4 linked regions of the Homo sapiens genome follow. The protein of the gene in region 2 interacts with the protein of the main gene of each other region in a pairwise test. Each region holds a gene or a part of one and is shown on either strand. Other genes may lie near its edges.

Evidence for each region.
Region 1: the proteins of EWSR1 (region 2) and SEC24D interact in binary tests that used the Homo sapiens proteins (3 or more experiments, as listed by UniProt).
Region 3: the proteins of EWSR1 (region 2) and YY1AP1 interact in a two-hybrid assay, tested with the Homo sapiens proteins (2 studies listed by BioGRID and IntAct).
Region 4: the proteins of EWSR1 (region 2) and SEC24A interact in binary tests that used the Homo sapiens proteins (3 or more experiments, as listed by UniProt).

The regions. Positions count from the first base shown.
Region 1 is NC_000004.12:118,833,116-118,841,030, forward strand, and holds the start of SEC24D (protein transport protein Sec24D), read right to left. Parts: upstream 3,012-7,915; 5' UTR 2,826-3,011; intron 623-2,825; 5' UTR 582-622; coding exon 464-581; intron 1-463. UniProt on the Homo sapiens protein: Component of the coat protein complex II (COPII) which promotes the formation of transport vesicles from the endoplasmic reticulum (ER).
Region 2 is NC_000022.11:29,278,262-29,285,288, forward strand, and holds part of EWSR1 (RNA-binding protein EWS), read left to right. Parts: intron 1-4,128; coding exon 4,129-4,296; intron 4,297-7,027. UniProt on the Homo sapiens protein: Binds to ssRNA containing the consensus sequence 5'-AGGUAA-3'. Might normally function as a transcriptional repressor. EWS-fusion-proteins (EFPS) may play a role in the tumorigenic process.
Region 3 is NC_000001.11:155,658,935-155,664,782, reverse strand, and holds the end of YY1AP1 (YY1-associated protein 1), read left to right. Parts: intron 1-3,359; coding exon 3,360-3,476; intron 3,477-3,849; coding exon of another isoform or gene 3,850-3,869; coding exon 3,870-5,126; 3' UTR 5,127-5,329; downstream 5,330-5,848. UniProt on the Homo sapiens protein: Associates with the INO80 chromatin remodeling complex, which is responsible for transcriptional regulation, DNA repair, and replication. Enhances transcription activation by YY1. Plays a role in cell cycle regulation.
Region 4 is NC_000005.10:134,644,637-134,651,791, forward strand, and holds the start of SEC24A (protein transport protein Sec24A), read left to right. Parts: upstream 1-4,148; 5' UTR 4,149-4,440; coding exon 4,441-4,537; intron 4,538-7,155. UniProt on the Homo sapiens protein: Component of the coat protein complex II (COPII) which promotes the formation of transport vesicles from the endoplasmic reticulum (ER).

The sequences.
Region 1 (7,915 bases), on a different chromosome or scaffold from region 2:
GTTCCAGTGAGCCCTGAGAGTTACTCATTGATTTATACATGGTCCATTTGTACAAAGAATTGTACAAAGAATTATCCTCACATGATGTACAGATTTATCTAGGGCCAATCCTAGATAAGGATATGTGAATTTAATTCATTTATAAATTTAATTCTTTTTTTATTCAATGTTTACAATAGCCTTACACCACTAATTAACAGCAAGAACAAGACTCACAGTAAAAATAAAACAGGAAGTGTTTGTTTTAGTCTATATTTAAAAACCAAACTTGTATTGCATGCAATAACCAAACTAGTGATGTAGAGTTCTGCTATGAGAGCCTTTTCCAAATGATCCTGTAATCTCAAGCCATTTCATTATATAATGATCATTCAATGCTTTCAAATCTCCTCTTTCAGAACATCTTATGTCTCTGAGCCTGAGAACTGAATAATCACATACAAGTCAAAATAACACACTGTACCTGTTGGAGATGCTGTGTGCGACGGATCCCCATAGTGCCCATAATGAGGTGGAGAAAGGCCTATTCCAGGCTGAGGCTGAGAATACGGAGGTGTAGCCACGTAACCTTGTTGACTCATTATGAAAATATCATTCCATAGGATAATTCTACAAAAGAAGTCTGCAACAGAGAAACAAGAAACATGTTACCAAGACAGTTTTAGTTACGTAAAGCTATTAAAAATATAAACACTGTTATTACATGTTTATGATGGTTTGAGGAAAAGTACAGATATCAGGTACATGAGAAATCTTTGTATTATACAATATATCATTATCCCCTAAAAAGGGCCTAACCATAGCTCTCTGAAACTCAGTAAATCACTTCAATAATCCTGGGCAAATTCTCAAGCATGAGACCTGAATAATAACTCGCAACCACTTTTTTAATGGAAGCCTGAAGCATCTCACAGATAGTCTCTCATAGTGTTCCTATGATTTTGTGCTTTTGGTTTCCATGGTCACATTTCAGCACAGAGCACACCATGCCATTCAATTGACTGACCACCATAACTGCCAGTAGCCTGCAATCAGATGTTTTATGACTTACGTCTTTTTAGTGCTCATCTAATTAATTATTTTAATCTAGTCATTAGGACAAAGAGAAATCATAGTCCAACAAACATAGCAACAGACAACGTTGATAATGGGCTTATTTTATGAGTCATAATTTGACCGAGCCAGGTGGTCACTATAACCACTTGAGTGTTGTCAGTGGTTTTTCAAAGGCGACAGAATTTCTTTCTAATTTAAATCATATCACATCTCTAAGAACATATGCACCTATATTTAGGGGACTAAGGAAAAAAAGTGTAATTTTGTAAGTGTGTAGGCACACACATCACAAATATAACAGACTCATCTTGATTTTTTTTAAATCTTGATTCTAATCAGAACCCAAATTTGCTTTAAATTTTCTATTTTTTCCAGGTTTTAACAAAATAAGAGATATTTCATAGGACTGATGATTTAAAAAAAAAAATTAAATACGACAGAAAATGCTTTGAATGCAAGAGAAGTGGGTTTCCATTCTATGTCTGCCATACTTAACTGTGTGACATGGAATGAGCTGAAGAACCTCTCTAAGCCTCAGTTCCTTCTTTTAGAAAATGAAGCCTTTCCAGATTTCCACTGATTCTACAATTTATCTCCAGTTTATTTGCCCCATACAAGCATATTCTTCCTTTTGTTCTTTTATTTGCTACAATTTAAGATAAGAGATCAGTGATACCTGCTAAGACTTAGAATCTGTCTATATTCAAGAAATAACATTTCAAATTAAAAATTTGAAGCCTAAAATTTGTGATTTGATTTTGTTTCCATATTAAACTATAAGTTTCCAAAATAAAAGCAACCATGTAAAAATATTATGAGATCATTTCCTTCTCCTGGGAAGGGGAGAACTGAAAAAGAGGAGAGAGGCAGGCAAAGGCCTTCTGGTCCACTTTGTTTCTGACAACCCCTTTTTCCTCCTCCCACTTAGCAGAGAGAGACGTGGCAGCCTGAGCGCTGGTCAAGCTCATCCAACCAAGAGCACTTAGGAAGTCGGCACGAACACACCTAAGTAGCAGCCTGTTGCTGAGTGACAGAAAAGAGAGGCTGAGATGGTCACTCCAAAGAACAGGAAGCAGCCAGTTCCCTCTGAACTGGTCCTCAGAGGAATCAGCTTCCTCACGCAACCCAGTTTGCCACGTCAAACTTCCTCACACAGAGCACCAAGTTAAAGAAACCTGACTCAGCTTCAAGCGGCGACACGGCAGAAAGCCACTTGGTATAAGCAGGCCTAGGATCAAAATCTGGGGAGCCCCAACCCCAGAACGGCCCCCTGGCTCACTGTCACCCAGCAACTCTAGCCAAGGTGCACTTCTAACCCTGGAACAAGTTCGTATTTGGCCAGATCAGTTTCACTATTCGGATGTCCCGAGGCTTCAAGATATAGTTGCCATTTTTACCATGAATATTTCTAACATTTCCTTCCTTCAAAAAAGGAAATTAAGTTGATAAGGAGATGAGAAAACCGCTGGCAATGACACTCGAATGGTGGCCACTGAGGATCCTAACAAGGCAGTTCCTGCATCCCAAGGCAAAAGGTGGGGGCGGGTAAAAAATGCCCACGCCCACCTCCTGCTCCCCCATCCCGCCGGCCCCACTATTAAACTGCACTAGAAGGCTAAAGAACAAAGAATGAGTTCTCCTCCCGCCGCCACTGCCTCAGGTGAGCACCCGGCCTCCCGCCGCGTCCCCGGGCCGGGCGCCGCAACCCGCTCCGCTGTGCCTGGGCAGGGCTGTCCCGCATGAAGGCGTCCGCGGGTGGGAGGCTTTACCTGTTCCCGCTCCCGCACCCCGCGGGCTTCCGAGCGCTGGCGGCTCTGCGCCTAGTGCCGGCAGCCCTCGGTGGCCGGGCTCCCGCTGCGGTCGCTTCTCCCGCCGCGCCTCTTCCCCGGCCGGCGTCCCCTTAGCCTGGACTCACGCTCGGAGTTGCAGCTGGGCTGGGAACTGCCACGTCAAACCCTTTCTCGGCTGCGCGCCCCCAGCGCCGGGCTTGGACCAGCCGCCGCGCTCCCGCCTGCGCACGCGCACAGCCACCGGCCGCCGCGGGGCGGGGCCACCGGGCTGAGCCTGCGAGCGGCCGAGCGACCTCCCCCTTTTCGCTTTTTCCCTTTTTCCGGTTTTTTGTTTTTTGGTTTTCTTTTTCCCGTCTTTTCTTTCCCCTCCCCCTACAGGTCAAAGCCTTTAACGTCGTGGCTAAATCAGAACCGTATTTTCTCGGCGCAGCCCCGCAGGAAGGAGGGGAGCGCGTTCATTCATTCTTCCATCAACAGGTTGCAGTTTCAGCTCTTCATTCATTACGTATTACTTAAATAACTAATAGTTCAGGTACTGCACTACCGTTACATACGGGAAAGTACACGATCTGGACCTAGGGGAGATTACCGTTTAAAGGCGAATCTGGCACGTGTACACGCACATTTGATGACGTACCCGTGCAATGCACTACAGAGGAAGGAACGCCCAAAGCAGCCTGGCAACGTGTAACGCGGGAGGAGTGGGGGGTGGGGGAGATGTCCCAAAGGAAAAGTGTGGGAAGTGGGGTTTCCATTGATATTGGGGTTGTTAGCGTTGTGTATACTCCTTCTTCCGCATATTCCTTGTTTGTGAAGTAGGATGGCTGATCCCAGCCCCAAACAGGAATCTCTGCATGGAAAAGCACCCAGCGTTTAGCTCACCGTCCTGTGAGAAACAGCTCAGAAATAAAGGCAACCTATATGAGATCTGGAGCTTACCTCTCTATCTCACCCTAAAATCAGGACCATCTGGCTGGTTTCCTATCATCTTTCACTGCTAAATAGAAAGACATTCAGCCACTCCCAGGTTTGGTATAGCTACCACTTTGCTCAAACTTACAAAGTAAAAACCAGCCCGGTGTTGTTGTTTTTAACATGCACTTTCTTCCCGGCTACAAGAAAGCCACTTGACAAATACCTTTACTGATGAACTGCCTAGGTAAAAACGTACATGGGGATGTTGCTACTCCCGAAATGCTACATGAATTGTGCAGGAATTTTAAGTCATTTTAGCAGTAAAGATATATGGTCCATTTATCCCACTCTTAAAAGTTTTTAAGGCATGGGGCAAGGCACAGTGGCTCACACCTGTTATCCCAGCACTTTGGGAGGCCAAGCAGGGAGGATTGCTTGAGGCCAGGAGGCAGTGAGCTATGATCACACCACTGCGTTCCAGCGTGGGCAACAGAGTGAGACCCTGTCTCAAGAAAAAGAAAAAAAGATTTTAAGGTAAGATATCTGGCCTACATCCAGCTTCAACACTGATCAGGTTTGAAAACCCACATTGAAATTTTTGTTTTAAATTGTTTCTTGTATTCTCAATGTGATGAAAATGTTCAGTGGAAGTTTAGGAAGTTTTGGCCGGTGTTGAAGCAGTACAGCTTGTAAAAGCAGTGAAAGAACTTGTCATATAACAGCTACATTACAAGGAGCGAGTGAAGCTATGATACAAAGATAGGAGAGAGTAAAGTCAGAAACAGTCACACCATGTGATGACCTGCTTGACTTGTTACCCCTATAAAACCACTACTTTTGAATTGTAAATACATCCTCACCTCCTGCTCAGGTACCAAACTTGTCTGAAACCAGGACAATTTGTGGTTTCAATTCTAAAACAGTTTTTAATTCCTAAATGTTAAAGCTGGAAGGGACTTGGCCGGGCGCGGTGGCTCACGCCCGTAATCACAGCACTTTGGGAGGCCGAGGCGGGCGGATCACGAGGTCAGGAGATCGTAGACCATCCTGGCTAACACGGTGAAACCCCGTCTCTACTAAAAATACAAAAAATTAGCCGGGCATGGTGGCGGGCACCTGTAGTCCCAGCTACTCGGGAGGCTGAGGCAGGAGAATGGTGTGAACCCGGGAGGCAGAGCTTGCAGTGAGCAGAGATCACGCCACTGCACTCCAGCCTGGGCGACACAGCCAGACTCTGTCTCAAAAAAACAAAAAATAAAATCTGGAAGGGACTTTAGCGATATGAGTATTCAATTCAATATTCAGTGAGAACTGAATTCAATTTAATCATCTAATGGATTAATAGAAAGGTTTATTGAGAAAATTTAAAAGGCTTACTAGTCATTTATAGCTAGTTGGAAGTCATCCCTTCCAATTCCAAAGCTCTTTTCACCTCCCTATGCTTTTTACCTTCTGATACTCTGATTTGCTGTTCTCTTTTAACTAGTTCTGCCTTTTTCTCCTGTGACTGCCTTATATTCAAGTTCTCAAATAACTATTAACTGACTGCATAGTTCCACCAACAATTGGAGTTACTTATCATGAATCTCTTTTTTAAATGAAACGGGCTTCTGGTTTGCGTCCTGCTTCTCTTGTCCTGTCCCCAAGTGCCTATGCCTTAGGTGACTAACTCCTAACCTTGTTCCTGTGATTGAGTCCCTGGCCCTCACCAGCCGTGAGGCTTGGTCCGGAGTCTCAGTCTTCCTTGATCTGACCCATCCTGTTGCCACCTGAGCTTAGCCTCTGATGTTCCATATGTAATTAACTTAGTTTCCCAGGTAACCATATCCTATTTGAAAGGTGAGGTCACAAGGACCTCACAATGCCGACGTACTGGGGTTTTATGTTCTATGTTCCAACTTTAAAAGGGAAAGAAAGCAACAAGTCTACTATGCATAAGGCTATATATAGAGAGAAGGAATTTCCTGACAATGCTTAAGATTTCTTCTAATTGGCAACCTTTTGAAGGTTATGATGTACTAAGCATTTATGTAACTTACAAAGTTTGGAGGTTTCTGGTTCCAAAGCTGAAAACAGCTTGAAGAAGCTTTATTTAAAAAAAAAAAAATTGAAGTGGCCAAATCCTGGACTATTTTAAATACCTGGAAATGGAGTAAATAAGGTCAAGTTAAACGGGGATGATGGGAAGGGTACATGGTAGGGTAGGCTGAGTAGCAACTAATAACAGTAATAATAGAGTTCAAGTAATACCCAAGGTGCTTCTAGAATTACTTTTTTGATATCTCAAATATCATGCTGTAAGTATACTACATCACATACAGCTTCAATCACAAAATGGACAGTGGGACATCACACTGCTAACTCAGATTGACTCAGGTTTGAATCCTGACACTGTCACTTACTACTAGCTGTGCAAGTTTTACTTATTCAACAAACGTTTATTAAACACCTACTATAAACTGGATACTGTACTAAGAACTTGAATACAAAGTCAGATGAGACACTGCCCTGGCTGTGAGAAGCTCATGGAATAGTGCAAGGATCAGCCAGTGGCAGCTGATATGCTATATTTGGCCTACCCACCTGTTTTTGTACAGCCTTCGAGCTAAGAATGGCATTTACAGTTTTACATGGTTGAAATTTTTTTTAATATTTTGTGACACATGAAAATTATGTGAAATTCAAATTTCAGTGGACATAAATAAGTTCTCTTGGAACACAGCCATGCTTTTCTATTATCATATATTCTGTGGTTGTTTTTGTACTATAAAGGTAGAGTTAAGTAGTTGTGACAGAGACCATAAGGCCTGTAAAACCTAAAATATATACTATCTGGCCGTTTACAGAAAAAAGTTTGGTGCCCCCTGGTCTGGCAGGATGTGCAATTACAATATAGTTCATTTTCATTCCATGAAGAGACACAGGTTGCCATGAGAACATGTAAGAAGGGACACTTAACCCAGATTTGGAAAGTGAGTGACATCTCCCTGGTGGAGGTGGCACCTGAGCTGAGGACCTGAGGACAGTAATAAGGCCAAAAAAAAGGCTGAAGGGCAGCAGGGAATAGCATGAATGAGTTGAGGAAGATGAGGAACATAGGGCATTCAGAGGGGCTATAAGTCCTGTACAGCTTGGACATGGGTTTCTAAAGCAAACGAGATTAGGCAGGTAGGCTAGGGTAGCTCATGGATCCCTCAAAGGCACTGGAAAGGCAATGGAACAATTTAAGCATGGGAATGACACAGTGGATTGTTTTTTTCTTTCCAGAAAGATCAGTCTGGAGTTAGTGAAAGAGTGGAAGAGAGGAAAAGGCAAGACTGGTGGGGTAAAGAAGAGTTAGGACACTGTCAGCAATAATCCAGATGAGAATATGGTGGCCTAAGCAAAGGCAGTGGAGATGTGGGTGGAGAGGACAGACAGGTGGGAAAGAGGTTTAGAAGGCGTATCAATGGGACTGGGTACAGAAATCAGGAAAGTGAGGCAGAATACAGACAAACACTCAGATTTTTGATCTGTGAGAATTAGTGGATGAATGGTAGAGCTATATAAGGGGTGAGGGAAACAAAAACGAGAGCCGATATGGGGAGGGGATGGGTTCAGTTTTGGAGAAGTTCATTTTGAGCTATCTGTGGGACATCTACGTGGAAGTGTCCAGTCACCTGTGAGATACGTGTGTCTGCAGCTAGGAGACAAATCTGAACTGGAGGTAGTATAAGGCAGCCAGCAATGAAAATTTAAAAATCAATCTGGCAGGCAAGAGATCAATCAGGCTCTGCAGTCAGACCAAGTCATGACTTCTGGTTCTGTCCTTTATAAGCTGTGTGTACCCTCCCTAAACCTCAGTATTTTTATCTTTAAAAATTGAAGGAATAATAATAATAATCTCAAAGGTCGTTGTGGGGATTAAATGAGATAATACAAGTAAATCACTCAGCACAATGTTTGGCACATAACAACTGATCAATAACGTTACCATTGTAGCATCATCATCCCAATCATTATTAACAACATGTAAGTGACAGTTGAAGCCATATGAGTAAAGTCAAAGGATGAAACCCCTGGGAACCTAGAATAGATGCATGTTCTAAGTTTACTAAACCTTGGTTTACTCACTGTAAATTAGGAATATTATATTTCTCTCATTGTCATGGAGT
Region 2 (7,027 bases):
AAGAAAGCAACTGTGTACACTTAAAATAATCTGTGGTTTAGTTCCTTATTAGTGGTTGCTTTCATATACTCTCAGATGTTCACTGTTAGTAACTGATGTGCTAGAACATACCACAGAAATATTCTGCATTTAACAGTGAAATTGGCTGGGCGCGGTTTCTCATGCCTGTAATTCTAGCTCTTTGGGAGGCCGAGGCGGGCGGATCATATAAGGTCAGGAGTTTGAAACCAGCCTGGCCAACATGGGTGAAACCCCGTCTCTACTAAAAATGCAAAAATACCGGGGGGGCGCAGTGGCTCACGCCTGTAATCCCAGCACTTTGGGAGGCCGAGGCAGGGGGATCACAAGGTCAGGAGATCGAGACCATCCTGGCTAACACGGTGAAACCCCGGCTCTGCTGAAAAATACAAAAAATTAGCCGGGCATGGTGGTGGGTGCCTGTCGTCCCAGCTACTCGGGAGGCTGAGGCAGGAGAATGTCATGAACCCGAGAGGCGGAGCTTGCAGTGAGCTGAGATCGCTCCACTGCACTCCAGCCTGGGAGACATAGCAAGACTCGGTCTCAAAAAAAAAAAAATAGAAAAATTAGCTGGGCGTGGTGGCGCACACCTGTAATCCCAGCTACTGGGGAGGCTGAGGCAGGAGAATTACTTGAACCTGGGAGATGGAGGTTACAGTGAGCTAAGATGGCACCATTGTACTCTAGCCTGGGCGACAGAGGAAGACTTCACCTCAAAAAAAAAAAAAAGTGAAATGGTGCTATCGAAGGGTCAAAATGAGGAATGGCACTGAATAGGTTCTCTGGTTTCAGAATGACCTTTTAGGGTAGGAGAAGGCTATTGTTTTTAAACCCAGAAGAAGAGAGAGAGAGAGTGTGTGTGTGTGTGTTTTCACTCAAAACAGCATAACTGATAGAATTGTACTTTTGAATTGTACTTTTGATGCTTTTATCTTTGATTTCATTGACCCTGTAAATGGGTAACCGCTTTCTCTTTGGCAAAAACATGGTAGTTCACACAGGCAGGAGGGGAAGGGAGCATCATGTGAGTCAAGAAATGGTCGTATGACCTAATTGTCTGGAAAGGACATAACCATATTCAAGAAATCAAACATTACTGTCTCGGCTTAAGCAATTGACATGACTTCCCTACATTGTATAGAGGCTTAATCTAAATATTATAGGCAAATAAAAATTCTTAACTGGGTACCCTGCTATAGGATGAGCAGAGCTCATACCCCATGACTGGTTAGCAGGTAAACAGTATAATTATTACTTAACAAAAGATTTTAGATCTTTGCTTTAGGCAGTCACTTAACTGGCTTGTGTATACAGTCTTGAAAGGACATTGAATTCTGGTTTGAAAGAAGACATTTTAGGAAATCAACTTCTAACCTAGATATATCTGCTCTAGAGGTAAGAAATTAGCTCTGACAAACACTCGTGAAATTACTTTTAAAATGCACAGTGAGTAATCGGAGCCGCTTGGCAATTTACCCTTGGTAGACCACCTTTGCAGTAGCTAAGTTAAACTTAGTGGCTTATTCCTGAAAGGCCTCATTTCCGAGTGTCATCAGATGTATGAAGTCCCATTTGATACTCTGATGCAACAGTATATCCAAGCCATATCTGGAGGGTTTTATATATGAATTGGGTTTTGATAAGTCATCCTTTTTTTTTCTTTTCACTTGTTACCACTTTAAAACAGCTGTCTGTCTCATAATCAGTGGCAACTGCTTTTTCGACTGGAAAAGGGTATGGGACCTATTTCAGCTCAGGAAAAGTTAGTACTTCACACCCTCTCTGGTTTTTCTGGGTTGGTTGGTTGGTTGGTTGGTTTTTGAGATGGAGTGTTGCTCTGTTGTCCAGGCTGGAGTGCAGTGGCGAGTGCACCCACCACCCAGGTTCAAGCAATTCTCCTGGCTTAGCTTCCCGAGTAGCTGGGACTACGGGCATGTACCACCATGCCCGGCTAATTTTTGTATTTTTAGTAGAGGCAAGGTTTCACTATGTTGGCCAGGCTGGTCTCGAACTCGTGACCTCAAGTGATCCGCCTGCCTTGGCCTCCCAAAGTGCTGGGATTACAGGTGTGAGCCACCGCACCCGGCCTGCCTGTTGATTCTTTGGACTTTGCTTAAAATATTAATAGCTCTAACTCAGTCTGCTGCAGCCTTGATGTAAAGTGTTAGGGCCAAGAGGTAATAGAAACCCCTGGAGTTTTCCTTGGAACTGAGATTAATTTTCGTCATTTAACAGGGATACTTACTTCCAGGTTCATCTGAGCAGGGACTTGGGAGGGGTCTCTTTGCCTTACTCTGGTGTTTCCATTACGGAGACTTTGAGCCAAGTTAGATTAGTTTATGGCAGCCCAGTTTAGGAAATGATTTTTTTCTGGTTGGTTGGATGGTTTGGTTGGTTTTTTTTTTTTTTTTAAGATGGAGTTTTGCTCTTGTTGTCCAGGCTAGAGTGCGATGGCACAATCTCGGCTCGCTGGAGCCTCCGCCTCCGGGGTTCAAGTGATTCTCCTGCCTCAGCCTCCTGAGTAGCTGGGATTACAGGTGCCCGCCACTCTGCCCAGCTAATTTTGTGTGTGTGTGTGTGTTGTTTTTTTTTTTTTTTTTTTTTTTTTTTTTTTTTTTTTGACAGAGTCTTGCTCCGTCGCCCAGGCTGGAGTGCAGTGGCGCCATCTCAGCTCACTGCAAGCTCCGCCTCCCAGGTTCATGCCATTCTCCTACCTCAGCCTCCCAAGTAGCTGGGACTACAGGCACCCACCATGATGCCTGGCTAATTTTTTGTATTTTTAGTAGAGACAGGGTTTCACTGTGTTTGCCAGGATAGTCTCGATCTCCTGACCTCGTGATCCTCCTGTCTCAGCCTCCCAAAGTTCTGGGATTATAGGTGTGAACCACCGCTACCAGCCAATTTTTTGTATTTCTAGTAGAGACGGGGTTTCTCCATGTTGGCCAGGCTGGTGTCCAACTCCTGACATCATGCAATCCACCTGCCTTGGCCTCCCAAAGTGCTGGGATTATAGGCATGAGCCACCGCACCTGGCAGTTTGTTTTTTTTGAGATGGAGTCTCTCTGTTGCCCAGGATGGAGTACGCGATCTAACAGCTCACTGCAGCCTTCACCTCCCATGCCCCAGCAGTCCCTCCCACCTCAGTCTTCCAAGTAGCTGAGACCACAGGCATGTACCACCATACCTGGCTAATATTTTTCTATTTCTGTAGAGGTGGGGTCTCCCTATATTACCAGGCTGGTCTGAAACTCCTGGGCTCAAACCATCCTCCTGCCTCAGCCTCCCAAAGTGCTGGGATTTTTTTTGTTTGTTTGTTTTTGAGACGGAGTCTTGCTCTGTCGCCCAGGCTGGAGTGCAGTGGCGCGATCTCGGCTCACTGCCAGCTCCGCCTCCTGGGTTCACGCCATTCTCCTGCCTCAGCTTCCTGAGTAGCTGGGACTACAGGCGCCCACCACCATGCCTGGCTAATTTTTTTTTTTGTATTTTTAGTAGAGACAGGGTTTCACTGTCTTAGCCAGGATGGTCTCAATCTGCTGACCTCGTGATCCGCCCTCCTCGGCCTCCCAAAGTGCTGGGATTATAGGCATGAGCCATTCTCGCCTGGCCTTGACCTGGTCTGTTTTTAATAAATGAGAAACATAAACCCACAAATTCTCTAAATTTATGATGCCATGGACTTACGTAAATGTTACTTCAACCTAAAACTTAACATTATTGTTAGTTTCTGGTCTTCAGCAGTCCCCTTTGAGAAAAAGCATTTATTCCCTAACAGATCACTTCTCCCGGATCACCTAAACTGGTAGCACACAATATCGCAACGCACTTTTATAGCGTTTACTGTGATGAATGGAGCATATTAATGTCTCTTCTGTGGATATGATTGATTCTCCCCCTTCCTTAGTGTTGTCTTCAAGCAAATATAGTTGGACCGACACTGAGTTTGATGTAGTTTACTTTAGGATTGTATTTATTATTGTATTTATTTCCAGGCTTAATCATAACATTGCTTATTGCTCGTAGCTTTGTAGCATTCTTACCCAGGAGTTTTGTGGTTGACCAACCACACAAAAAAAGTCACTTTTTAATTTTATTTATTATTTCTCCTCTTAGACCGCAGGATGGAAACAAGCCCACTGAGACTAGTCAACCTCAATCTAGCACAGGGGGTTACAACCAGCCCAGCCTAGGATATGGACAGAGTAACTACAGTTATCCCCAGGTACCTGGGAGCTACCCCATGCAGCCAGTCACTGCACCTCCATCCTACCCTCCTACCAGGTCAGTCTACTTTTTGTGGCAAAACAAAAACAGTGACAAAACAGTTTTTTTCAGGTTGTTGACCAGCTTGCTTTGACTTCTTCAGCTAAGGTATGTTATCTGACTGTCGCAGTGATAAGTCATCTGACCATACTTGGTTACATTAAAGCCTGAGATCTAGGGTCCCATAGTGTTGCCTGGCAGCTAATAACTATTCTTTTTTCTTTTTTTTTTTTTTTCCCCCGAGACGGAGTCTCTCTCTGTCGCCCAGGCTGGAGTGCAGTGGCGCGATCTCGGCTCACTGCAAGCTCCACCTCCTGGGTTCACGCCATTCTCCTGCCTCAACCTCCCGAGTAGCTGGGACTACGGGTGCCCGCCACCACGCCCAGCTAATTTTTTGTATTTTTAGTAGAGACAGGGTTTCACTGTGTTGGCCAGGATGGTCTCAATCTCCTGACCTCGTGATCCACCCATCTCGGCCTCCCACAGTGCTGGGATTACAGGCGTGAGCCACCGCACCCGGCCCAGCTAATAACTATTCTTTCTAAATACAAAAACATTTTTACCACTCTAAGTTCTTTCTTTAAGTTTCTTCCTTTTGCTGTTTTAGTTAACTCAGATGGGAAGCAGAAGTATATGAAAGCATGTAAATAGATGTAAGAGCCATCTTCCCCAATGCAGTTAGGATAAGTAAAGCGCAGGGCATTATAATTCACCTTAATCATTTTACATTTTACCTAACACATAAAGGTTTATTCATGCACTAACCTTTTAATGTATGGGCCAACTCTTTTTATTTTATTTTTATTATTATCGCCTGGCCAAGTTTTCTTTTTTGAGACAGAGTCTCACTCTGTTGCACAGGCTGGAGTGCAGTGGCACGATCTCCGCTCACTGCAACCTCTGCCTCCTAGGGATTCTCATGCCTCAGCCTCCCGAGTAGCTGGGACTGCAAGTGCATGCCACCACACCTGACTAACTTTTCTTTTTGTTTTATTGTTGTTTTGAGATGGAGTTTCGCTCTTGTTGCCCAGGCTGGAGTGCAATGGCACAATCTCGGCTTACTGCAGTTTCCACCTCCTGGGTTCAAGTGATTCTCCTGCTTCAGCCTCCTGAGTAGCTGGGATTACAAGTGCTCACTACCACACCTGGCAAAAATTTTTTTTTTTGTATTTTTAGTAGAGACAGGGTTTCACCATGTGGGCCAGGCTTGTCTGGAATTCCTGACCTCAGGTGATCCACCCGCCTCCACCTCCCAAAGTGCTGGGGTGACAGGCGCGAGCCCCTGCGCCCAGCCAGTTTGTTTGTTTGTTTTGAGATGGAGTTTTGCTCTTGTTGCCCAGGCTGGAGTGCAATGGCGTGATCTTGGCTCACCGCAACCTCTGCCTCCTGGGTTCAAGCGATTCTCCTGCCTCAGCCTCCCTAGTAGCTGGGATTAGATACAGACGCCACCACAACCGGCTAATTTTGTATTTTTAGTAGAGACGGGGTTTCTCCATGTTGGTCAGGCTGGTCTTGAACTCCCATCCTCAGGTGATCCGCCTGCCTCGGCCTCCCAAAGTGCTGGGAATACAGGCATGAGCCACTGCGCCTGGCCCAGTTTTTGTATTTTTAGTAGATACAGGGTTTCACAATGTTGGCCAGGCTGGTCTTGAACTCCTGGCCTCAAGTGATCCGCCCACCTTGGCCTCCCAAAGTGCTGGGATTATGGGATTACAGGTGTGAGCCACCATGCCCAGCCTGCAAGTTTTCTTAACCCATGTTTAATTAGATGTGGGTTTTCAAATTGTTTGAATTGTGCCCTGAAAGTTTTGCTAGAAGTAGCGGTTCCCTTTTTTGCACTCATTTCATTGTTTTGCAGCAGATGTGAACAGGTTTAGGAACAAGTAGAATTGATTGGGTGTCTCTCCATACAGCCAGCTTGGAGCAAAAGTGGGTAGGGCTTACAACCCTTCTTCCACAGAGCAGGTTCGTACCTATTGCATTGAGAGCAGTTAATAGCAGTTAATCTGGCAAGTTGGATAGGTACACAGTGAGAGATTATTGAATTCATACAGCAATGGTGAGGGATGTGGTGTGTTAGAAGCTTTGTTTGTTTGTTTATTTTTGGAGACCGGGTCTCACTCTGTTGTCCAGGCTGGGGTACAGTGACACAGTCGTAGCCCCCTGTAGCCTCGAACTTCCTGGCCTAGTTTAATCGGACTTTAAAATATGTGTCCTTACTGTTTCTCATCATGATTTGTAAAGCTTAATACCAGATGGGTTTTTTTGTTTTTGTGTGTGTTTTGTTTTGTTTTTTTGAGACGGAGTTTCACTCCTGTTACCTAGGCTGGAGTGCAATGGTGCGATCTTGGCTCACCGCAACCCTCGCCTCCCAGGTTAAAGTGATTCTCCTACGTCAGCCTCCCAAGTAGCTGGCATTATAGGCATGTGCCACCACACACAGCTAATTTTGTATTTTTAGTAGAGACGGTGTTTTTCCATGTTGGTCAGGCTAGTCTCGAACCCCTGACCTCAGGTGATCCACCCGTCTCTGCCTCCCAAAGTGCTGGGATTACAGGTGTGAGCCACTGCTTCTGGCCCTTGTTTTTTTTTTTTTTTTTTTGAGATGGAGTTTTGCTCTGTTGCCCAGGTTGGAGTGCAGTGGCGCTGTCTTGGCTCACTGCAGCCTCTGCCTTCCAGGTTTAAACAGTTCTCTTGCCGCAGCCTCTCGAGTAGCTGGGACTATAGGCGTGTGCCACCATACCCAGCT
Region 3 (5,848 bases), on a different chromosome or scaffold from region 2:
AAAAAAAAAAAAAATCTCCATTCATGGTCTTTTGATTGTATCGATGTCAGTTTCCTCGTTTTTGTTTTTGTTTTATTTTTTTTCTTTTTTTGAGACAGAGTCTCACTGTTGCTCACTGCAGCCTCTGCCTCCTGGGTTCAAGCGATTCTCCTGCCTCAGCCTCCTGAGTAGCTGGGATTAGCCACCACACCCAGCTAATTTTTGTATTTTTAGTAGAGATGGGGTTTTGCCATGTTGGCCAGGTGATCTCGAACCCCTGACCTCAAGTGATCTGCCCACCTTGGCCTCCCATAGTGCTGGGATTACAGGCATGAGCCACCACATCCTCCATGTCTGGCCAGTTTCCTGGTAGTAATATTGTACTGTGTACCTTGTTTATATGTATAGCTCTTGTTTCTATGTAACATAAAAACATTATATTGGGAGAAACTGGTTGAAGGGTACATGGGACCTCTTGGTACTATTTTTTGCAATTTCCTATGAATATAATTATTTCAAAATAAAAGGAAAAAATAATACTCTCCTCTGTCACTGTATCTAGAATTCTAGATAGGAAATAATTTTTTTAAGAAGCTTTTAAGGGCCTCACTTCATTTTCTTCTAACTCCTAGTGTGGTGTTAAGAAATTTCATGCCATTTAACTTTTTTTTTTTTTTTCCGAGACAGGGTCCCACCCTGTTGCCCAGTTTGGAGCGTGGCTAAATCATGGCTCACTGGTGTCTCCAACCCGGTGTGCACCACTATGCCCAGCTAATTTTTTTTTTTTTTTTTTTTAAGACATGGTCTCGTTATGTTGGCCAGGCTGGTCTCAAACTCCTGGCCTCAAGTGCTCGTCCTGTCTTGGCCTCCCAAAGTAATGGGATTATAGGCATGAGCCATGGCCCCATTTAACTCTTGAGTCTTTGTGTAACACCTGTTTTTCTCAACCTCTGACAGCATGCAGGATTTTTCCTTTGGCTTCAATATTTTGAAAATGCATGATAATATGCCTTAGTATTTGTCTATTTTTATCCATGGTTTTTTAAAAAGTACTTTCTTTTTGTTTTTGTTTGTTTGTTTGTTTTGAGACAGAGTCTCGCTCCATTGCCCAGGCTGGAGTGCAATGGCGTGATCTTGGCTCACTGGAACCTCTGCCTCCCAGGTTCAAGCAATTGTCCTGTTTCAGCGTCCCGAGGAGCTGGGACTACAGGCGCTCACCACCACACCCTGCTAATTTTTGTATTTTTAGTAGAGACGGGGTTTCACCTTGTTGGTCAGGCTGGTCTCAAACTCCTGACCTCGTGACCCACCCACCTCAGCCTCCCAGAGTGCTGGGATTACAGGTGTGGGCCACCATGCCTGGCGTATCCATGGTTTTAAGGCACACGTGATAAACCTTATTCTTCTGCAGAAATAATTTTTTTTTTTTTTTTTGAGATGGAGTCTCACTCTGTTGCCAGGCTGGAGTGCAGTGGCGTGATGTCGGCCCACTGCACTCTCCACCTCCTGGGTTCAAGTGATTCTCGTGCCTCAGCCTCCCGAGTAGCTGAGATTACAGGCACGCGCCACCACACTTAGCTAATTTTTGTATTTTTAGTAGAGATGGGGTTTCACCATGTTGGCCAGGATGGTCTTGATCTCCTGACCTTGTGATCTGCCTGCCTCGGCCTCCCAAAGTGCTGGGATTACAGGCATAAGCCACCACGCCTGGCCAGAAGTAATTTGTGTTTAAGTTTTAGTTTTGTGTCATTTTTCGTGCACACCTTTGTACTTTTGTTGGGGGATGGGGCGGGGTGTCGGGGTTGGAGTCTTGCTCTGTTGCCCAGGCTGGAGTGCAGTGGTGCAGTCTTGGCTCACTGCAACCTCTTAATTCCTCAGTTCAAGTGATTCTCCTGCCTCAGCCTGCCAAGTAGCTAGGATCACAGGCGTGCACCACCACACCCAGCTAATTTTTTTTTGTACTTTATTAGAGACAGGGTTTCGCCATGTTGGCCAGGCTGGTCATGAACTCCTGACCTCCAGTGATCCATCCTCCTCGTTCTCCCAAAGTGCTGGCATTACAGGCATGAGCCACCATGCCCAGCCCTTTGTACATTTTTTAATGTAGGATGCCATTTGTCCACTTGACTCTCCCACTAGTCTGTAAGCTCCATGAGAGCAGGAATTGCTTCCCTTATGTGTGTGCTTAGCTTTTAGCACAGTGCCTAGGATATAGAAAACATCTTATGTTCATCATGTTGGATGAACAGATGCTTATTGTCATGGTTTAAGTTCAGTTCTTATCTTCTTTTTTTTTTTTTGAGATGGAGTCTCACCCTGTTACCAACGCTGGAGTGCAGTGGCATGATCTTGGCTCACTGCAATCTCCACCCTACCACCCCCACTGCCAGGTTCAAGCGATTCTTTTGCCCCAGCCTCCCAAGTAACTGGGATTACAGGCACCCACCACCACACCCAGCTAATTTTTGTATTTTTAGTAGAGATGGAGTTTCACCATGTTGGCCAGGCTGGTCTCAAACTCTCAATCTCAAGTGATCTGCCCGCCTCAGCCTCACAAAGTGCTGGGTTTACAGATGTGAGCCACCAAGGCCAGCCTATTTACTCTTAAAACTGAACTGCCTCGGTCTTTTTTTTTTTCCTTCCCTTCTGATGCCCTTCACACCATCATTTGCTTAAAGTCTTTGATGTGTCCATTTTATAGATTACGATGCTGTCTTTGCAGCTGTTGAGCAGGAACAAATCTTACATAAGATTGCTCTTAGCATCTGCTTCCTTTTCTCTCTGTGACCTAAACTCTCCCCTTCCTGGCAACCAGAATGGAGATCATCAGTTAGAAAATATTGAATAGGGCTGGGCGCGGTGGCTGACGCCTGTAATCCTAGCACTTTGGGAGGCCGAGGCGGGTGGATCACGAGGTCAGGAGATCGAGACCATCCTGGCTAACACAGTGAAACCCTGTCTCTACTAAAAATACAAAAAAATCAGCCGGGTGTGGTGGCGGGCACCTGTAGTCCCAGCTACTCCGGAGGCTGAGGCAGGAGAATGGCGTGAACCTGGGAGGTGGAGCTTGCAGTGAGCGGAGATCGCGCCATTGCACTCCATCCTGGGCGACAGAGCAAGACTCCGTCTCAAAAAGAAAATACTGAATAACTATAAAATCTTTAAATAGAGATTAGTTTAATTTGAAATGTACAAGTATTCAGCATATGCTATTCGTATATGTGTGTTCATGGATGTTTGTGTATGTGGTCTTGTGTGTGTGTGTGTGTGTGTGTGTGTGTGTGTGTTTCTCTTGATCCACCACCACCCCATTCACCAGCCTGACAGAAGACAGTGTTTCCAGAAGGAATGTAATTCATGCGCATTTTTTTCATGTTAAGTTTTATAAGAAGACCAAACAGCTGCCAGTCCTAGGAAAATGCTGTGAAGAGATCCAGCCACATCAGTGGAAGCCACCTATAGAGAGAGAAGAACACCGGCTCCCATTCTGGTTAAAGGTACAGCCCTCTTCCTCGAAGTCTGTAGGAGGCAGAAGGTCACTGAAAGTTCTGAGAGAATATCAAGGACTTCCTTAATCGTCTAATGCTTTAGTTGTAGAACTAGGACTTCAGGAATCTTCCTGATTCACCTTTCTTCCCTTACTTTTCTGCCCTTCTCCGGGTGATTCTACAACATTTTCAAAATAATGGGTAAAATGGTAATTTGCTAAAGGAAATTCAGAGAAGAGTTTCTAAAGTGTATAATTGGACTGTGGTCTTTGTAGAAATTTCATATGCAGAGTCCCTTGGAAAGATGCCTTGAGCTTGTCTCAGGTCCCTAAACTTAGAAAGTCCTATTCTTTTTCCCAAATTCTGACATGTGCTGGATCAGAGTGTTCTCATTTCCAATAGGCCAGTCTGCCATCCATCCAGGAAGAACTGCGGCACATGGCTGATGGTGCTAGAGAGGTAGGAAATATGACTGGAACCACTGAGATCAACTCAGATCAAGGCCTAGAAAAAGACAACTCAGAGTTGGGGAGTGAAACTCGGTACCCACTGCTATTGCCTAAGGGTGTAGTCCTGAAACTGAAGCCAGTTGCCGACCGTTTCCCCAAGAAGGCTTGGAGACAGAAGCGTTCATCAGTCCTGAAACCCCTCCTTATCCAACCCAGCCCCTCTCTCCAGCCCAGCTTCAACCCTGGGAAAACACCAGCCCAATCAACTCATTCAGAAGCCCCTCCGAGCAAAATGGTGCTCCGGATTCCTCACCCAATACAGCCAGCCACTGTTTTACAGACAGTTCCAGGTGTCCCTCCACTGGGGGTCAGTGGAGGTGAGAGTTTTGAGTCTCCTGCAGCACTGCCTGCTATGCCCCCTGAGGCCAGGACAAGCTTCCCTCTGTCTGAGTCCCAGACTTTGCTCTCTTCTGCCCCTGTGCCCAAGGTAATGATGCCCTCCCCTGCCTCTTCCATGTTTCGAAAGCCATATGTGAGACGGAGACCCTCAAAAAGAAGGGGAGCCAGGGCCTTTCGCTGTATCAAACCTGCCCCTGTTATCCACCCTGCATCTGTTATCTTCACTGTTCCTGCTACCACTGTGAAGATTGTGAGCCTTGGCGGTGGCTGTAACATGATCCAGCCTGTCAATGCGGCTGTGGCCCAGAGTCCCCAGACTATTCCCATCGCCACCCTCTTGGTTAACCCTACTTCCTTCCCCTGTCCATTGAACCAGCCCCTTGTGGCCTCCTCTGTCTCACCCTTAATTGTTTCTGGCAATTCTGTGAATCTTCCTATACCATCCACCCCTGAAGATAAGGCCCACATGAATGTGGACATTGCTTGTGCTGTGGCTGATGGGGAAAATGCCTTTCAGGGCCTAGAACCCAAATTAGAGCCCCAGGAACTATCTCCTCTCTCTGCTACTGTTTTCCCCAAAGTGGAACATAGCCCAGGGCCTCCACCAGTCGATAAACAGTGCCAAGAAGGATTGTCAGAGAACAGTGCCTATCGCTGGACCGTTGTGAAAACAGAGGAGGGAAGGCAAGCTCTGGAGCCGCTCCCTCAGGGCATCCAGGAGTCTCTAAACAACTCTTCCCCTGGGGATTTAGAGGAAGTTGTCAAGATGGAACCTGAAGATGCTACAGAGGAAATCAGTGGATTTCTTTGAGCTAGGAGAATAAGAGTCTGGAGACTGGGAGCCTTCACTTCGGCCTCCGATTGGTGGCGCATAGGGTGTAACCAATAGGAAACCCCTAAAGGGTACTTAAACCCCAGATTTTGCAACTGGGGCTCTTGAGCAGCTTGCTTTAGCCTGCTCCCACTCTGTGGAATATACTTTTGCTTCAATAAATCTGTGCTTTTATTGCTTCATTGTTTCATTGATTTGTGCAATTTGTTCAGTTCTTCATTCAACATTCCAAGAACCTGGACAAATTGTAGTCAAGACCCTCCGACAGTAACATATTTTGGCAAGCCAGCCTGGAGGTAAGTCCAAATTGCGGTGCAGGGGAAGGGGGCGGTTATTTTTCTTTTCTTCTTTCCTTTTTCTTTCCCTGTCAAGCCTTCATTTTTCGGCATGGGCTGGAGCTATATCTCTGTGCAGGGCTCCACTCCATACAGGGGAACCTTTTCCTCTCTCTCTTTCCCTTTTCCAACTTGAGACTCAGCAGATAGCATGTGAACATGGAGGCAACTGCAGGTCTCTGGCCAGGGCCACTCTCCAGTGAGACTGAAGGGTATCCACGTGGAAGCACCTGATCACCATCACCCAGTTTGGGTGACAGACCTGAGTTCTCTTTTTTTGAGTCTTTCAGCTGCTGTTTTCTAACAGCTCTTTGGTAATTGAGGGCAACTGGACAGGGCCACTCTCCAGTGTTACCTGAAGGCCAA
Region 4 (7,155 bases), on a different chromosome or scaffold from region 2:
CTGCAACCTCTGCCTCCCAGGTTCAGCAATTTTCCCTGCCTCAGCCTCCCAAATAGCTGGGATTACAGGCGCCCGTCACCATGCCTGGCTAATTTTTGTATTTTTAGTAGAGACAGAGTTTCATCATGTTGGCCAGGCTGCTCTCGAATGCCTGACCTCAAGTGATCCACCCACCTTGGCCTACCAAAGTGTTGGGAATACAGGCGTGAGCCACAACGCCTGGCCAAGAGCAATTGTTATAATTGCTATCACCAATAATTTTTTCATATTTCTGTGGCCACACTTAAATGAGTCATCAAATGATTTGATATTGTGTGGATAATACTTAATATGAAAACTTTTAAAATATGTTGTCCCATCTCAGTTACTTAAACTTACCTTCCTACTATCCCAAAGGTTAGGCAGATGACAAATGCTGTTTTTCTTCTGTCTCTCTCTCTCTATATATATGTATATATGTATTCTGAGACAGGGTCTTACTCTGTTGCCTAGGCTGGAGTCCAGTAGCACAATCAACCTCCCAGGCTCAAGCGATCCTCCCATCTTAGTCTTCTGAGCAGCTGGGACTACAGGCATACGTCACCATGCCCAGCTAATTTTTTGTATGTTTTTGTAGAGATGGAGTTTTGCCATATTCCTCAGGCTGTTCTCCAACTCCTGGGCTTAGGGGATCCACTTGCCTTGGCCTCCCAAAGTCCTGGGATTATAGGCGTGAGCCACCATGCCCAGCTCTCCTCAATACTGTAGTGCTGATTACACCGAGAGTGTAAAAACCATTTGAAATACTTAATCATTGCTTTGAGGACACGAACAGTAACATAGCAACTTAGGGGTGGAACAAATTTTAGAGAAAGCATTGTTTACTTATTAGAAAATTATTTATGTTGATTTAACCTGATTTAACCAACTAGACTACTTTTTAAAATCTCTGGGGCCAGGCACGGTGGCTCAGGCCTGTAATCCCAGCACTTTGGGAGGCCAAGGCAGGTTGATCACCTGAAGTCATGAGTTCAAGACCAGCCTGGTCAACATGGTGAAACTCTGTCCCTAGTAAAAATACAAAAATTAGCTGGGCATGGTGACATGCGTCTGTAGTCCCAGCTACTCGGGAGGCTGAGGCAGGAGAATCACTTGAACCCGGGAGGCAGAGGTTGCAGTGAGCCGAGATCGCACCACTGCACTCCAGCCTGGCAACACAGCGACATTCCGTCTCAAAATAAATAAATAAATAAATAAATAAATAAATAAATCTCTGAACACACAGATATTGCTTAAATAGCTTGAACCCGGGAGGCAGAGGTTGCAGCAAGCCAAGGTCGCACCACTGCACTCTAGCCTGACGACAGAGCGAGATTCCGTCTCAAAAAAAAAAAAAAAAAAAAATCTCTGAACACACAGATACTGCTTAAATAGCACAAAGTTCAAAGAAACCTTGATTTAACCAAATCAAACCACTGTGCCAAGGTCAAAACAAATCAAGATCATTCAAAAGGAGCTGAATAAAAAGAGATAATTAAACTAATGCAGGTTTGAGATCAGGTATTTGCCTCTTTGAAGAGTGACCCTGATTTTGTCTGACCTCAGAAAGGTTGTTTCTCTCTGAGCTCTATTTCCTCTTCAAAACATTGAGAGGCTTGTGTCTGTGCAATTTTAAAGTGTTTTTGGATCTATAACTTGGGATTTTGTTATAGTGGCTCCAAACTGTAAACAATTTGACCAAAAGTATCATCTTCATCTTAAGATTTTAACTGGGCGTGGTGGCTCAAACCTGTAATCTCATTTTGGAAGGATGAGGCAGGAGGATCTCTTGCAAGACCTTCTCTTTACAAAAACAAACAAACAAACAAACAAACAAATAAAAACCTAGCCAGGCATAATGGCACACACCTGTAGTTCCAGCTACTCAGGAGGCTGAGGCTGGAGGACTGCTTGAGCCCAGGAGGTTGAGGCAGCAATGAGCTGTGACTGCACCACTGCACTCCAGCCTGGACAACAGACTGTCTCAAAAAAAAAAAAAAAGTTATTGTACTTGGATCTTGTACAAAGGAATTGAATTGTTAAATGCTACTTACAGCAAATATTTATTTATTTTTATTTTTTATTTTTTGAGACAGTCTTGCTGTGTCAGCCAGGCTGGAGTGCAGTGGCACAATCTTGGCTCACAGCAACCTCCGTCTCCTGGGTTCAAGCAATTCTCCTGCCTCATCCTCCTGAGTAGCTGGGATTACAGGCATGTGCCACCACACCTGGCTAATTTTTGTATTTTCAGTAGAGACAGAGTTTCACCATGTTGGCCAGGCTGGTTTTGAACTCCTGACCTCAGGTAATCCGCCCGCCTTGGCCTCCCAAAGTGCTGGGATTACAGTTGTAAGCTACCACGCCCGAGCAAATACATTTTTAGTAAAGTTCTGAGGCAAATGATGAAAACAGGGTTAGTATAAAATTTAGTATTTAGTTATTTGAATTTTTACTGACCTTTTTTAGGCCTGACACAGTGGTTTATTCTTTTTCTTTTCTTAGAGACAAGATCTCACTCTGTCATGCAGGCTGGAGTGCAGTGGTGAGATCACAGCTCACTGTAGCCTCGAACTCCTGGGTTCAGGTGATCCTCCCACATCAGCCTCCTGAGTAGCTGGGACTACAGGGATGTGCCACCACACTGGCCACTTTTTAAAAATTTATTTAATTAAAAACATTGGCTGGGCATGGTGGCTTACGCCTGTAATCCCAGCACTTTGGGAGGCTGAGGCGGGTGGATCAACTGAGGTCAGGTGTTCAAGACCAGCCTGGCCAACATGGTGAAACCCTGTCTCTACTAAAAATACAAAAATTAGCCAGGCATGGTGGCAGGAGCCTGTAATCCCAGCTACTCGGGAGACTGAGGCAGGAGAATTGCTTGAACCCAGGAGGCGGAGGTTGCAGTGAGCGGAGATGGCACCACTGCACTCCAGCCTGGGCAACAGACCAAGACTCTGTCTCAAAAATATATATATATATATATTTTTTAAATAGAGATAAGGGGACTCTCCCTGTTGTCCAGACTGGTCTCAAACTCCTGGCCTCAAGTAATCCTTCTGTCTCAGCCTCCCAAAGTGCTTGGATTACAGGAGTGAGCCACCTTGCCCAGCCCGACACAGTGGTTTAGATCTGGCTTTTTTTTGTATGTAATATAACACTTCATAGCAGGCATTTGGTATTAAATGAATTAGGTAAGATGTACTTCACACTGAGGTTTCGAAACCGCGTGGCATGACATTTTAATCCACAGTACAAATCTGTAAAGGAGGGCTTTATCGTCAGCACAGAGCAGGAAAAACCTAAATAGAATGAAGGCAGCTAAGATGATTACTCAATCATTAATTAACTATGTTGTCCAATCACCGCAGTTTCGACCTCCCTTTGGCTTCAAAAGTCAAAAAAGTCAACTTGCAAAAAAAAAAAAAGTCTACTTGCTCTGAAAGGAAGTTTGAGTTCTTTACCTTACTGTAAACTCTTAGAAGAGGAAACAAAACTGCCATTTAAATGTGCTAATGAACTTGAGCGTGACTATGCTGTGAATCAGCGAGTTTCAAAATTAAAATTCCTCTGAGTCCTCCAGTCAAAGACAAAGGCCTCCTTCTTGGCTTGATCACACTATTAACATGTACACATATTTAACCACCTCTTTTTAAAACCCCTTATAATTTACATCTGAAACACGAAGACGAAATGTGAATGAAATACTGCGATGAACATTAACCGCCCCAGCTCCCAGTGGTGGTACGGTCTCAACAGAGGACGATGACTTCTATGGTCTCAGGTAATCTTCACAAAACCCGAGGAGAGGAACTGTCAGTCCCACCCCACGAAAGCGGCTACTGAATCTCAGATTGCCCCACGATCCTGGCTCTGCGAGCGAGGTCACGTTCACAACGGCGGGAATTTCCGTAGCGGTGACACACGGCACTTCCGGCCGGCCGTGAGAGTCGGTGACGTGGCGGCGAGGCCGGGCACGGTCGTCGGGGTCGGGGCACCAGGAGCTGTCAGGTGGCCTCGGGGCAGCCCGGCTGGCAGAGAAGAGTTCGCCGGCGCGGCGGCGGCTGCTGCGAGCCCGGAGCCGGAAGTGCCACGTGTCCTGATTGCGGCTGCGCGGCCGGCGGCTGACAGGCACTTCCGGCCAGGGCCTCCCTCCTTCTCTCTAGGTTTGGCTGCCGCCTTCTAGCCGGGCGTTCGCGGCCCCGCCGGCCCGACTCTCAAGCCTCAGCTCCCAGGCTAGGCTGTGGCCGCCGGTGGCCTGGGGAGAGTGCGGCGCCATGCCTCGGGCTTAATGCGCCCCCCCCTCTTCTCCCAGTCTTCAGTCTTAAGTCGTTAGCCTCCTCCCTCCGCTTTCAGCAGTGGTCTTTCAGCTCTCTTCTTGTGCGCTGTTGTCGACCCCGACCAGCCCCTTCCAACCCAGTCATCATGTCCCAGCCGGGAATACCGGCCTCCGGCGGCGCCCCAGCCAGCCTCCAGGCCCAGAACGGAGCCGCCTTGGCCTCGGGGTCTCCCTACACCAACGGTGAGTGCTGTCCGGGGGGAGGGCGCAGCCTGGCCAGGGCTGACTGACCTTTGCGTGCCACTGCTGCTTGAGGCGACATAGATAGAGAGAGTGACCTCCTTACCGGGTTCTGGCGCGGATGGTGGTGGGCGGCTGGGCCAGGGGACCACGGCAGTTGTGCACCTGTAGCCCCAGGCTCGTCTCAGTCTTTCACATTTATTTAGTCGGTCACCAAAACAGTAAATGAGCACCTGCTGTATGCAACGCCCTGGGTGAAACACGGGTGAGAAAATGCCTCAAAACTCGAATATAAGGATCATAGTGTTTGTGTGCCTTCGCCTTCCTTGCCACCTCACCCCAGTCTCCTAGAGAGCAGGATGTGGGGTCTGATTCTTCTGGGTTCCGCAGGCCCTGAAGTGGGGTGGGGGTCGTACTCAGTCTGAGTTTCTGGAGATGAATGCATGCTTTTGGGACACCCCTTTAGGGCCTACTCATCTCTCCCAGAACCTTCCCAGAATTGTACCTACAACAGCTGTTCAATGTTTCAGCTGTGGAAAAACCAAATAGAAGGGAGGATCTCCTGGTTGACTTCTAGATGTCTGGACAGCATTTGGAAAGTGGGTGGACACAACTCTCTGAATCTCTGACAAGAGTCTACATGTACATTATAGTTTGTCATTTGATGTGAGAATGTCTTATAATTTTATACCTCTTCTAGGATTCCTTAAATCGTCCTACATTGTGATTTGCTAAGATTATTTCAGTTGTTACAATAGACAAAGACTTTCTGCCGACAGATTGCCTACTTACCAATTTACTTACAAATCTTTGGTTTACAGAAATAAGACTAGTAGAATAATGCTAAAGAACTTAAGTTGCCCATTAGAGTCTAAGAGTTCTGTGAAGTTGGAGAATACAGACAGTGACTAAAATCTCTAATTTACATTGTTTTTAGAGAAGACCGCTGTTTTCTTTACAAAGATGGCTCTAAAAGACTTTTAAAAATGTCTGTGAGTAGGCAACTATGTGGGCAGAAGAAAGAATAAGTGGAGGAAAGCCACTGAAAGGGTACTGAGTTAACCATTCTTTCTCAAAATTATGGTAACAGATTATGTACACTACATTTTATTCTAGAATATTTAGTAACATTTACACTGAGGATGAGAAAAAATGTTACATGGCTATGGATTTTTCTTATAATCTATAAATTGCAGTTTTACATTAACTTTAAATGACAAATCCTCAAATGTGCTTCAACATTTATATATGAGTGTAGTTGTCATAATATTGAAATGTTAAAGGGATTTGACCACTGTGGTATGCTGTATTAGAGATACTGTCACTATGTTGATTTGATACAGTCCAACAGACATTTGTTCCACATCTTTTTTTTTTTTTTTGAGATGGAGTCTTGTTCTGTTGCCCAGGCTGGAGTGCAGTGGTGGTGATCTTGGCTCACTGCAACCTCTGATTCCTGGGTTCAAGCGATTCTCCTGCCTCCTTAACCTTCCAAAGTGCTGTAATTACAGGCCTGATCCACGGTACCCAGACCTCTTTTTTAAAATATAATTTTCATAGTCTTTTTATAAGTTCCATTTCTACAGGGTTTTTTGTTTGTTTGTTTGTTTGTTTGTTTTTTGAGACGGAGTTTTGCTTTTGTCTCCCAGGCTGGAGTGCAATGGCGCTATCTCGGCTCACTGCAACCTCCTCCTCCCAGGTTCAAGCAATTCTCCTGCCTCAGCCTCTGAAGTAGCTGGGATTACAGGCACGTGTCACCACACCCAGCTAATTTTTATATTTTTAGTAGAGACGGGGTTTCACCATGCTGGTCAGGCTGATGTCAAACTCCTGACCTCTAGTGATCCACCCACCTTGGTCTCCCAAAGTGCTGGGATTACAGGCATGAGCCACTGTGCCTGGCCTCTACAGGTTTTTTGTATTTTGCCTTTTTTTTTTTTTTGAGACAGGATCTTACTTAAACTGTCCCTCAAGCTGGAGTGCAGTGGCAGGATCACAACTCACTGTCACTCCTGGGCTCAAGCAATCCTCACACCTCAGCCTCCCCAGTAGCTAGAACTACAGGTGCATACCACCAGGCCCCATTTTTTATATAAGTATATAATATATATATATAATGTATATATTTTATTATTATTTTTTGAGTCAGAGTTTCACTCTGTTGCCCAGGCTGGAGTACAATGGCTCGATCTCGGCTCACTGCAACCTCCATGTCTCAGGTTCAAGTGATTCTCGTGCCTCAGCCTCCCGAGTAGCTGGGATTACAGGCCTGTGCCACCACAACCGGCTAATTTTTGTATTTTTAGTAGAGATGGGGTTTCACCATGTTGGCCAGGCTGGTCTTGAACTCCAAACCTCATAATGATCCGCCCACCCTGGCATCCCAAAGTGCTGGGATTACAGGCATGAGCCACCACGCCCGGCCTAATGTAAAGATATATGTATATTATATATATAATGTTTTATATATATTTTGTAGAGATGAGTCTCTCTATGTTGCCTAGGCTGGTCTGAAATTCCTGACCTCAAGTGATCCTCCTGACTCAGCCTTCCAAAGTGCTGGGATTAGAGGCATGAGCTACCAAGCCTAGCCTGGGTTGTTTTATTGTTCATCCTGCTAA